2 separate regions of the Homo sapiens genome follow, and region 1 is linked to region 2. Evidence: fine-mapped expression QTL. A gene starts in region 2. The other region holds a variant in brackets. All regions are shown on one strand. Distances are between the middles of the regions. Region 1 overlaps PFDN1 (prefoldin subunit 1). Region 2 holds the start of HBEGF (heparin binding EGF like growth factor).

Region 1 (5,376 bases), 61 kb after region 2:
TATCTGGTCACTGGGTTTATTTGTTACTACTGAGGTGTTACCGTTTCTAGGCCCTCTGGTGACTAGCAATAGATAATATGTGTATATATGCTACTAATTCATGTGTATGTACATATCTACAGTTGTTTCTGTGTCTGTTCATCACTGTACACATACTAAGCTGATTGTGAGTTTATACTGATATCTCCGACTCTTCGATACCACAGGGTTCATTTTAGCCTTCCTTTCTTGCGTATCTGTAACTTCTCTCTCATATGAGAAACCCGGCTCCTACCATCCAGTGTCCATTTACTTATTTATTTATCCCCATACACATATAAAGCAATTTCAGAATTGTTTGCCTGTATCTCCTGTGAGAAACAAATTTAACCAACTAGTTAATCCAAGGTTGATTGGATTATTTGTATACATATATTCACATACACACATATTTATAATAACTTACATTAGAGCCACTATAATATGGTACGAAAAAGACCGAGTGTTCTAATCTAATACATACAAGCTGGGCAAGGTATTTAACCTGACTAGGTCTTATTTTTGTACTTGGTAATTTTTTACATACTTAGAAAACTTTGGCCGGGCATGGTGGCTCACTCCTATATATAATCCCAGCTCTTTGGGAGGCTGAGGCGGTTGGATCCCCTGAGGTCAGGAGTTCGAGACTAGCCTGGACAACATGGTAAACTCCTATCACTACTAAAATACAAAAATTAACTGGGTGTGGTGGCAGGCACCCATAATCCTAGCTACTCCAGAGGCTGAGGCACGAGAATTGCTTGAACCCTGGAGGCGTAGTTTGCAGTGAGCTGAGGTGGCATCACTGTACTCCAGCCTGGGCAACAGAGCAAGACTGTCTCCCCCGCCCCCCCCCCCCCCCCCCCCCCCGCAAAAAAAATTGAGGATTCAAGAGGAAACATTTTTCGAGCAATGAATTTTAAAAAGCTCTCTCTTTCTTTTCCAGTCCCATTTCATCTTTGTGTAAATCCTTTTTTATTTTACATATTTTTTCATCTTGAAAATGGAATGACATGCTGATTTTTCTTTTTTCTTTTCTTTTTTTTTTTTTTTTTTGAGACAGAGTCTCACTCTGTCACCCAGGCTGGAGTGCAATGGTACGATCTTGGCTCACTGCAACCTCCGTCTCATGGGTTCAAGTGATTTTCCTGTCTCAGCCTCTCGAGTAGCTGGGATTACAGGCACCCGCCACCACACCGGCTAATTTTTTTGTATTTTTAGTAGAGATGGGGTTTCACCATGTTGGCCAGGCGGGTCTCTAACTCCTGAACTCAAGTGACCCACCCACCTCGGCCTCCTAAAGTGCAGGGATTGCAGGTGTGAACCACCACGCCTGGCTGACGTGCTAATTTTTTAAACTTGAGTTTTTACTTACTTACTAACTTACTATATTGACATCTTTACATGTCAATAAAAAAAATATTTTTTTTTAAATTTCGGTTTGGTTTTTTATTTAATTAGTCATTCTTTTTTAAAAAAATTTATTTATTTTTTAGACATGGGGCATTGCTATGTTGCCTGGGCTGGACTTGAACTCTTGGATTTAAGCAATCCTCACACCTCAGCTTTCTGAGTAGCTAGGACTACAGGTGCATGCCATTATGCCTGGCTGCCCCCTTGGTTTTATCTCCTGTTTTGTATCCTATTTCTGTGCCAGTGTGGATACTTAAGGTCTCCAGGATTCAGCATAAACTCTCAGGATGAAAGCCAATTTACTGCTGTCTTACATTCCTGAATTCCCAGTTTCACTTCACTTTGGACCTTTGTGGAATCCTTCCTTTTGTGTTAGTTCAACAAAATGTTAAAAAAAAATTTTTTTTTCCTTTGTTTCTAATCAGGAGTGTTCAGGGTATCTACTCTTCATTATGCCAATAACAGAAGTCTGTAACTCACTGAGCAGTCCACAATGTGGATGTGCCATAAAGTTTTAATCACTTCCTTACTAAGGAAGTGATTAAAGTAAGAAATAAATTCAATTTAAAAAAATTTTAAAAAAAGAAGTTCAATTTATTTCTACTTGCTTCCACGCTAAAAATTACGACGTAAAAATTCAGTAACTTTCCTCACCAGTGGAGTTAGGCAAAGAAGCAAGATAGGCTCATTCTTTTTTTTTTTTTTTTGAGATGGAGTCTCGCTCTGTTGCCCAGGCTGGAGTGCAGTGGCGCGATCTCGGCTCACTGCAAACTCCACCTCCCGGGTTCACGCCATTCTCCTGAAGATAGGCTCATTCTTATGTCTTTTCTATGCTGCTTAATTTGTGAATACCCTGAAACCTAAATGCTAATAGGATACGTTTTTAGACACCCTCTAAAAATTTCCCACCCAAAGTGAACTCGTCATAAGCATTTTGTTGTTTCTGAATAGCATATGTCTAGGTGACCATACTTT[G/A]GAAATTGTGTCCAAAATGCAGCAGTGCAAGTGATCTGGGATTGTGTTTTGGGCAGGTGAACAATGGTTTTGATTCATACTGAGTTATAAGAAAGTGGAAGTTGTACCAAACTGCAGGATGATTTAGAAAACGGAGTCTGATGTTTCTCAAATAATCAAAACCGAAAGTCTCAGAATTATGTTTTCAGATGGCATAATTACAAATAAATGAGGAAGTGAAATAGCAGGTTACAAGTCCTTGAGAGTGGACAGTGCAGAGGCACGTGGCACTGATTTCCAGGTCAAAGAAGAGGCCTTTTGCAAAGCATCAACTCGAATTCAGGTTATATAATCCTGAGTATTTTAAGCATGTTATCTGCATATTATTTGTCATGAGAGAATACTTTCCCTCTTCATGGTTTATTTTTCCTTATTGGTACATTTTGAACTCCAGAATTCTTTATTTACTATTTGGCTTTCCATAAACAATCAGGCAGAATGACTATGAGATTCTCTACATTGAGCAACTGTGTACATAATATTTGCTTATGATAAGACTTATATTATCATGATAAATCCTTTCTCTTCACATAGTATCTGATAATCCAATGCCCTTTTAAACAATAAGAAAGATGTTTTCCAAAGACTTTTTTTCAGAAATCAGATGTTTCTTGGAGCCTTTTCCAGTCTTCATACAATATATCTTTGCCATTTTTTAAATTGAGGACTAAACCAAACTTTCCATAAGTTTTTGTGTTTGAATTTTTACTGTGTAACTACTCTTTGAGGTAGACATTTGCATTTACCCAACATTCATCCTTGTTAAAACTTGCGTGGCTGAGATGTCCTTAGGTTTGTAGTAGTAAGTTGGCCAGCTTCGGTGGAATCTCTCTGGCCTTTGAAGTTGGCACAGTCCAGTATAGCTACCTCAAAGGATATGTGGTCATGGAAAAACGTGTTTTTGTTGTTGAGTGTTCTTGCTTTCTAGTAATTTTATTTTCTGCTCAAGAGATTTAGTATCTGTTCAGATACTTTATTTTTAAAGGCCACATAAGTAATGACTTGACCTCTAATCTTAGCTTTGAAATTTTCCCAGACACTAATAAAGATGATGTCTGATGACCTTTTATTTGAGAATAGTACTCATTGGCCAGCTATCAGTGCTACTTAAAAATGTATATTTTACTCAAAAAATTATTTCCATGGCTAAAAGACTTTCTCAGTAAAATCACACATGTCATGACATAATTTGGTGACTCTTGCACCTTGTTTTAGAATAGTTTTTACATAACATTACTGAGACTTAGTACTGTTCAAAACAACTCTTCTCTTCAAATACAAATATGAGTTAGTTCTGAGAAAAATATTCTGTAAACCATAATCTTATCTGAAATAGCACCCATCTCTTGGATCCAGTAAGAATATTTTAGACATGAAGGGTTCTATAGTAAAAGACCTGGAATTAATCCTTGTTTTGCATGAATGTGGGCTCTCTTTCCTGTAAATATACAGTAAGGTTTTACAAAGAATCAAGTTACTACTGAAGACTAAGATCATCAGTTGGGCTGGGCTGGGCGTGGTGGCTCATGCCTGTAATCCCAGCACTTTGGGAGGCCGAGGCGGGCAGATCACGAGGTCAGGAAATCGAGACCATCCTGGCTAACATGGTGAAACCCTGTCTCTACTAAAAAATAGAAAAAATTAGCCAGGCGTGGTGGTGGGCGCCTGTAGTCCCAGCTACTCGGGAGGCTGAGGCAGGAGAATGGCATGAACCCGGGAGGTGGAGCTTGCAGTGAGCCAAGATCATGCCACTGCACTCCAGCCTGGGCAACAGAGCGAGACTCCGTCTCAAAAAAAAAAATTATCTGGGCTGGCCGCATTAGGATATAAGCTTAATAATTAGTGGAGTAAAAGAAGTTCTTCAGATTTTATTAATATGTGTGGTAAGGCTTAGTTATGAAGAAGAGGGGACAAGGCAGTTTCCTTCCAGGTGTTGGGGCATAGCTAATTGCCCTTTTTGGTCTGTTTTTACTTGTCTTATATCTATAATAACGGACTCTCTTGATAAGAACCCACCTAGGCACAATGATGTTTTTGTGGGGTTGGCAGAGGAAACTGCATGTTGCTACCTTGATGTGTTTTCTCGTTTGACTTTTTGTTAAGAGATGATGTTTAGTTCTTTGTTGCTGAACTCTGTTAGTGCAAAGAGAAGAAAAATCTTGCTTAATTAATTGCAATATTAAATTGAAATATATTTTAGCTTCCTTAGACAGTCCTGAAAGAGATTTGCATAACTGGGGTCTTCCCTTGGTTCCAGTGGAGGGGAAATATTTCAGTTCACTTACTTGGGGCTATAAAAGTTTGTTCTTCCTTTCCCTGAAGCAAGAATTGTGAACATAAAGTCATAAAACAGTTTCAGTGTTAATTTTTAAAACTTCTCCATATTTCCACCCTCATCAGTGGTAAATAATGTGCCTGATGTAAAATGGAAAAAGTTGAAAATTTCCACTTGTACATTTTGAGCTTTTCAGAGGTACTATATACACTCTGGAAATAATAATAAAAGATACTAAGGCTTATACAGTGCTTTTTGTTTGAGGAACTCATATAAACACTAATGCATTGATCCTAACACAGTGCTTGATTGTGACTTTAAAAGGTCATGAGTTACTGCTGTTACAAAAAAAAAAAAAAAATGGAGGGGCGCTCCACTTTACAAATATAGTTTAAAAAATATCTAGATAAAAATTGAAACAGATAACTGAAAAAACAAAACTTATAGGGTATTTGTTTGTATGTTGACTTTTCTCTTAGCGTATGATATATTTTTATTCCTTTATTATTTTTTCTTTTACATATGAATCTACTTGAAGCCTGATTTTCTTTTCTTTTTTTTTTTTTTTTTAATGTTTTTAAGACAGGATCTTGCTCTGTTACCCAAGCTGGAGTGCAGTAGCACAATCATGGCTCACTACAGCTTTGATATCTCAG
Region 2 (5,376 bases):
TTTTCCTTGTTTATTTCCTTAATGTGCTGCCTGTCTACTATAGAATATAAGCTCTGTGAAAGCAGGTCCTGGGCTGTCTTATTTATTTCTATGTCCCCAGTGCCCCCCAAAAATGTTCAGTTAATGTTTATGATATAATTGAGTTAATGAGATTGCCTCAGCATGAATTGTGATTCCTTTTCTTTGCTCAGAGACATCCAAGATTCTGAGAGGGGAAGTGACTGTCCCAAATCCAATTCAAGCTTTTTATCTTCTTTTTTCAGGCCCTTCCTGTAAAACCTGGCTGACACACAAACCTAGCTGGGGTGAGGCTCCAGGTGTGATGAAAGTTTGGAGTTGCCCCATGAATGGGACTGAGGCTGATGTGGGGGTGAGAAGGCGGAAGGACAGAGCATGTGAAGGGAGAAAGGCAGGCTGGGGCAAGAGAGCAGGGTGTGACTCTGGCGAGGGTGGGGGAAAGGGGGTGATTTGACCATGTGTCAGGAAGTGTTTCTCTCCACCCTCCCCTGGGGAGAGCCTTGACCCCAAGGTGGCTTTGTTTTGGGGAAGCAGGTGGCCAGGCAGCTGCTGAGGGAGGGCAAAGTCATGGCTTGGGCGGTGACCATGCACTGAGGTCCTAGGCCCGATACTCATCACCCAAAAGGATAATCTAACAGTGGCTCTTAGCCAAATAGGTGACAGGTGAGCTTCTGTCTGAAACCAGCCCAACTATATCATAAAGCCTCAGATATGGCCTAGGGGAAGGCAAGCGATCTAGAGAAGTGAGAGAAAAGAGGCCTCTAAGGAAATAGAGTGGTCAAGTGCTTAGTGATTATTATTAACAGCAACAATAATAATGGGTCACATTTATTGAGAGCTTATAGTGTGCCTGGCACTATACTAACTACTTTTATGTGTTCCCGCATTCATTTCTCAAAAAGCTCCCTACAAAGTAGTCATTATTATTATTGTTATTATTTTTTCCATTTGAGAGACGTCAAAACTGAGGCTCAGTGAAATTAAGTTTCTTGTCCAAGGTCACACAGTAAGTAGCAAAGGCAGGATTCAAACTCAGGTCTGTAGTGATTCCAGTGCACTATGGAAACCTAGGCCTAGGTTACTGGAGCAAGTTAAGAGGGCAGGGCCAGACTGACCCCTGCAAAGGTGGGGATAGGGAGGGACAGTGGGATAGACTGTGTATAAATAGCAGGCCTGTTTTTATCCCTACACACAGGCAGAATCCGGCAAGTGCTCTATCTGGCACAATTTCAGGGCTCTGAAAGCCAACCCAGCCCTGTGTCAAACAACTCTCTCCCCAGCACGTCCCTGGAAACTGAAATACCTACTGAGACACTCATTTCTTTGGGTCAGGACAGTGACTCCAGAAGACCCCTGCAAAAGCACATGGGTTGGAAGAGAAACACCTAGTGTCTGTGAAACAGCAATCTAGGTTAGCCAGCTGGGTCCTATGGGAGGGTGGCTCATTTTTTATGTTGAGGAAAAAGGTGGCAGTCAAAGGCAAGGAAAAGAATAAGGCTTGTTTCACAACCTGTGTCTCTCCAATCTCAGAAGCCTGGGAATTACAACCCATAGTTCAAAAATCCTAATGTCCCCTGAGGGAAGATGGGAGGAAGCCACTCCAGAGACTAAGAGAGTACTAACTTCCTTTGCTTTTGCTGGATTGATACTAAGTGCCTGCAACTTCAACTCTGGTTATCTCGGGTTTATGAGAACGGCTGGCATTCACGTGTCTAATTTTTAAATGATAGATGAATTAATTATTATTTGATACTTGCCGTGTTGGTAGGCCAAAAGGTGGGCTTCTGAAACTTAGAGGGTGACAGGGATGGAGACCCCTGGTATGGGGCTTAGATGAAGCAAGAGGCCAGGCCCGGAACAGAACTCAGCTCAGCAGTCAGTCACAAGGCTGCAGAGTGACAGGCGTTTGGGGAAAGGTAGGAACCGCTCTCCGCCACCTGCCGGTCAGTAGCCCTACCCACAATCAGGCCGCGGCTGCCTCGGCCTGGTCCCAAAAATTGTGAACGCCGCCCTCTCCTCCCGCCCAGTCCTCCGCCGCGCCCGCGGGGTCGGGGGCTGCGCTGCCGGCGCCGCGAGCCGGGCGAGCTTCCCAGCACGGGAGGAGGGAGGGGGCGGCGCCGGGCGGGGCGGAGCTTCCGCGCCTCCTGGAGCCTTATTCCCGGCCGCGAGCCGGGCAGCGCTCATTCGGCCGAAGGAGCTACGCGGGCCACGCTGCTGGCTGGCCTGACCTAGGCGCGCGGGGTCGGGCGGCCGCGCGGGCGGGCTGAGTGAGCAAGACAAGACACTCAAGAAGAGCGAGCTGCGCCTGGGTCCCGGCCAGGCTTGCACGCAGAGGCGGGCGGCAGACGGTGCCCGGCGGAATCTCCTGAGCTCCGCCGCCCAGCTCTGGTGCCAGCGCCCAGTGGCCGCCGCTTCGAAAGTGACTGGTGCCTCGCCGCCTCCTCTCGGTGCGGGACCATGAAGCTGCTGCCGTCGGTGGTGCTGAAGCTCTTTCTGGCTGCAGGTAAGAGGGCTGCCGACGCCCCCGGAGATCGGGGGGATGGGGGCGTTGTGCTGGGGGCATGGGGGAAGGTCGCCGCAGCGCACCCGGCACGGGCCACTTGGTGGGGCCCTTGCGCTCTGGCGGACGGGCGTCGGCATCGGTGCGTGTTGGTCAGGGGTCTGGGCGGGTGTCTGATGCGGCCTGGCCTCTCGCCCGCAGTTCTCTCGGCACTGGTGACTGGCGAGAGCCTGGAGCGGCTTCGGAGAGGGCTAGCTGCTGGAACCAGCAACCCGGACCCTCCCACTGTATCCACGGACCAGCTGCTACCCCTAGGAGGCGGCCGGGACCGGAAAGTCCGTGACTTGCAAGAGGCAGATCTGGACCTTTTGAGAGGTGGGTGTGGAGGCCCCCCATCCTTGGACCTTGGTGGGCTGTTGAAGAATAAGCAGATCCAAGATTCTTGCTGTTTGGGCAATACTGTGGGTTGAGGGTATTCATGGAGAACCTCGGGGAAAAGCTGATCGGCCTGATGGGCACTGGGGGATCCTGGAATATAGGTCCCACTCTCTCTCTCTTGTCATTGCCTCACCTGCTGGGTTGCTGCCCTTCTGGGTACTCCGGGGCAAATTGAATCAGACGTGTTGTCTGGGGTTGTTACGTTCTTCTTAGGTAAGCTGGGTGATAGGAACAAGGAATGGTTGAGATGCTTTCCCTAGAGCTACTATGTAAAAATGGGCGCCAGTTCTAATTCCCATATCAAATGACTATTATATATAAAATAGAGGTAACACATGCGGAGATGCCCAGGCACATCTCTAGAAAGTGTGCAGTGTTGGCCTCCTCCATCCACCTGTCTCCAGATTGGGGAAACAGAGGGGAATGAGGAGCTCTTGGCCGCCCTAGATGAGGCTGTGAATGGTGAGCACTGAGCCCCTAGGGGGCTGTATTAAAATGCTGGATATCTGTGAATGCTACCGGAAACCTGCAGCTTACTGAGCACCTTGCATTCCTGAGGAGACTCCAAATGGGGAGGGCTGTGTAGGATCCTCCAACCAGCCTCTTTGGCTGTGGCCAAGTACAGGTACAGGGCAGAGTCCAGAGCCTGCCAGCTCTCCTGCCTCCAAACCTGAGGAGATTATCCAGAGTAGAGCAAGGACTCAGCACTGTACCCTGGAATGACTATATTTGGTTGGACAGATGCCCACCTGTTCTAGTTCCACCTGCTCCTCAGCTGCCCTTCTCCCTCATTCCCAGGAGCTTTCCTTGGATACTCTCTCTACTTTGTATAAATCAAGCACATACTCCAAAACTGAGCCTGGGCTCCCATACTTCATCCTCTCCCAGTGGCCCTCTGGGGTTGCCCATGACCTGAACAGCCTGGATTCTCCTGGCCCTCTCCTCCTAGGCTGGGCAGGGCTGGGCTGTGACTCACCCCACCCCCACCCCCCACCCACACGGCTGCTCCTCTTACCTCTGCAGACCTGACTCACTGCTCCCTGTCCATGGCAGGAGCCTGGCTGTCACCCTGCACCTTCTCCCTCCCCTTTCTGATTGGCTTGGCCCCCCTGCCTTGCTCTCCCCGAAGCTCTGGTCACTGGGTTCCTCTGACCACCTGTATCACCTTCTGAGCTCTGAGGGGGCCTGGGACTGGATGAGAGGAAATGAAAGACTGTGGGGGCTGCTGGCACCTACTTCTCTTCCCTTCTTTTGGCTTTGCTGGGCAAGGACTATTTTTCAGGTCTGGGGATCCTACCACCTAAAATAAATGACTGCTACCATTTATTAAATTCCTACTGTGTTCTAGGCACTTGATATGTTATCCTGGCTAATGTAACACTTATAGCAACCTTTTGAGATAGTTACTTTGGCTATCCACATTTTACTGAGAACCTGAGGTTCAGAGGAGTTAAGTGACTGCCCACAGTAAATAGCTGAAATTGGAGCACAGGTCTATGGACTTCAGAGCCCATTCATGCCTGGATCAGCATCTCAGGTGCTCTAGACTTGTGAGAGGGAGGAGATGGGAGTGTGTGAGGCAGCTTGGTGTGGTGAGGAAGGACATTGGAGTGAAGTCCAGAGAACACAGTTCTAATCCCAATCCTGCATGACCTTGAGTAAGTCACTCTGCCTGCCATGAGTTTTTTCTTTTTTTCTTTTTTTTTTTTTTAAACATAGTCTCACTCTGTCACCCAGGCTGGAGTGCAATGGCACGATCTCAGCTCACTGCAATCTCTGCCTCCCAGGTTCAAGTGATTCTCCTGCCTCAGCCTCCTGAGTAGCTGCGATAACAGGCACACACCACCACGCCCGGCTAATTTTTGTATTTTTTGTAGAGATGAGATTTTTGCCATGTTGGCAAGGCTGGTCTCGAACTCCCGACCTCAGGTGATCCACCTGCCTCAGCCTCCCAAAGTGTTGGGATTACAGGCGTGAGCCACCGTGCCTGGCCACATGGTATTCTTTGAAGTCCCTCTAGCTTGAGACTCTAAGTCTCTAGTCTAACGTATCATGCTTACCCTTCTGTAAGACACATGGCTGTAGCCATGGATGTGGGCACCTTTTTCCTGATGGGGGATAAAAGGGTGGGATTGGGCTGATAGGCATAGTCCCTGGTCAATCCCAGCTGGATATCTGGGTGAGGCTGTTTTTCCCCCAGTCTCTCTGAAGCATGGAAAGAAGGAGGGAGTCATCATTGTTCCAGTTCCTTCTGGACAGTTCCTTACTTTCCATTTTTCTATCCCTTGTACACCCTGTACCCCCCAATCCAGAGAGCTATAAACAGGACATTGGGGGTTAAATATGAATGAATCTTTGAGAAAGTGGGTGAGCTGTAAAGGGTATGCAAGTTAAATATTTTGCTTGAAGTTGAAAAAGCA

Evidence for each region. PIP is the estimated chance that this variant, and not a neighbour inherited with it, causes the effect. A credible set is the group of variants that fine-mapping cannot tell apart.
Region 1: its variant is the best candidate, but not a certain one, in a credible set for the expression of HBEGF in whole blood (INTERVAL, PIP 0.89).

The regions. Positions count from the first base shown.
Region 1 is chr5:140,282,110-140,287,485 of GRCh38, reverse strand. The region is part of intron 2 of PFDN1 (prefoldin subunit 1); the gene reads left to right. Among named protein-coding and RNA genes, the nearest start is that of PFDN1, 18 kb to the left of the region's middle. The variant G/A (reference allele first, on the strand shown) is at 2,407.
Region 2 is chr5:140,343,428-140,348,803 of GRCh38, reverse strand. HBEGF (heparin binding EGF like growth factor) reads left to right here and starts at 2,201. Exons shown (of 6, transcript NM_001945.3): 1 at 2,201-2,521; 2 at 2,720-2,893. The coding sequence starts at 2,476. RefSeq lists silencers at 1,917-1,966, 2,007-2,286.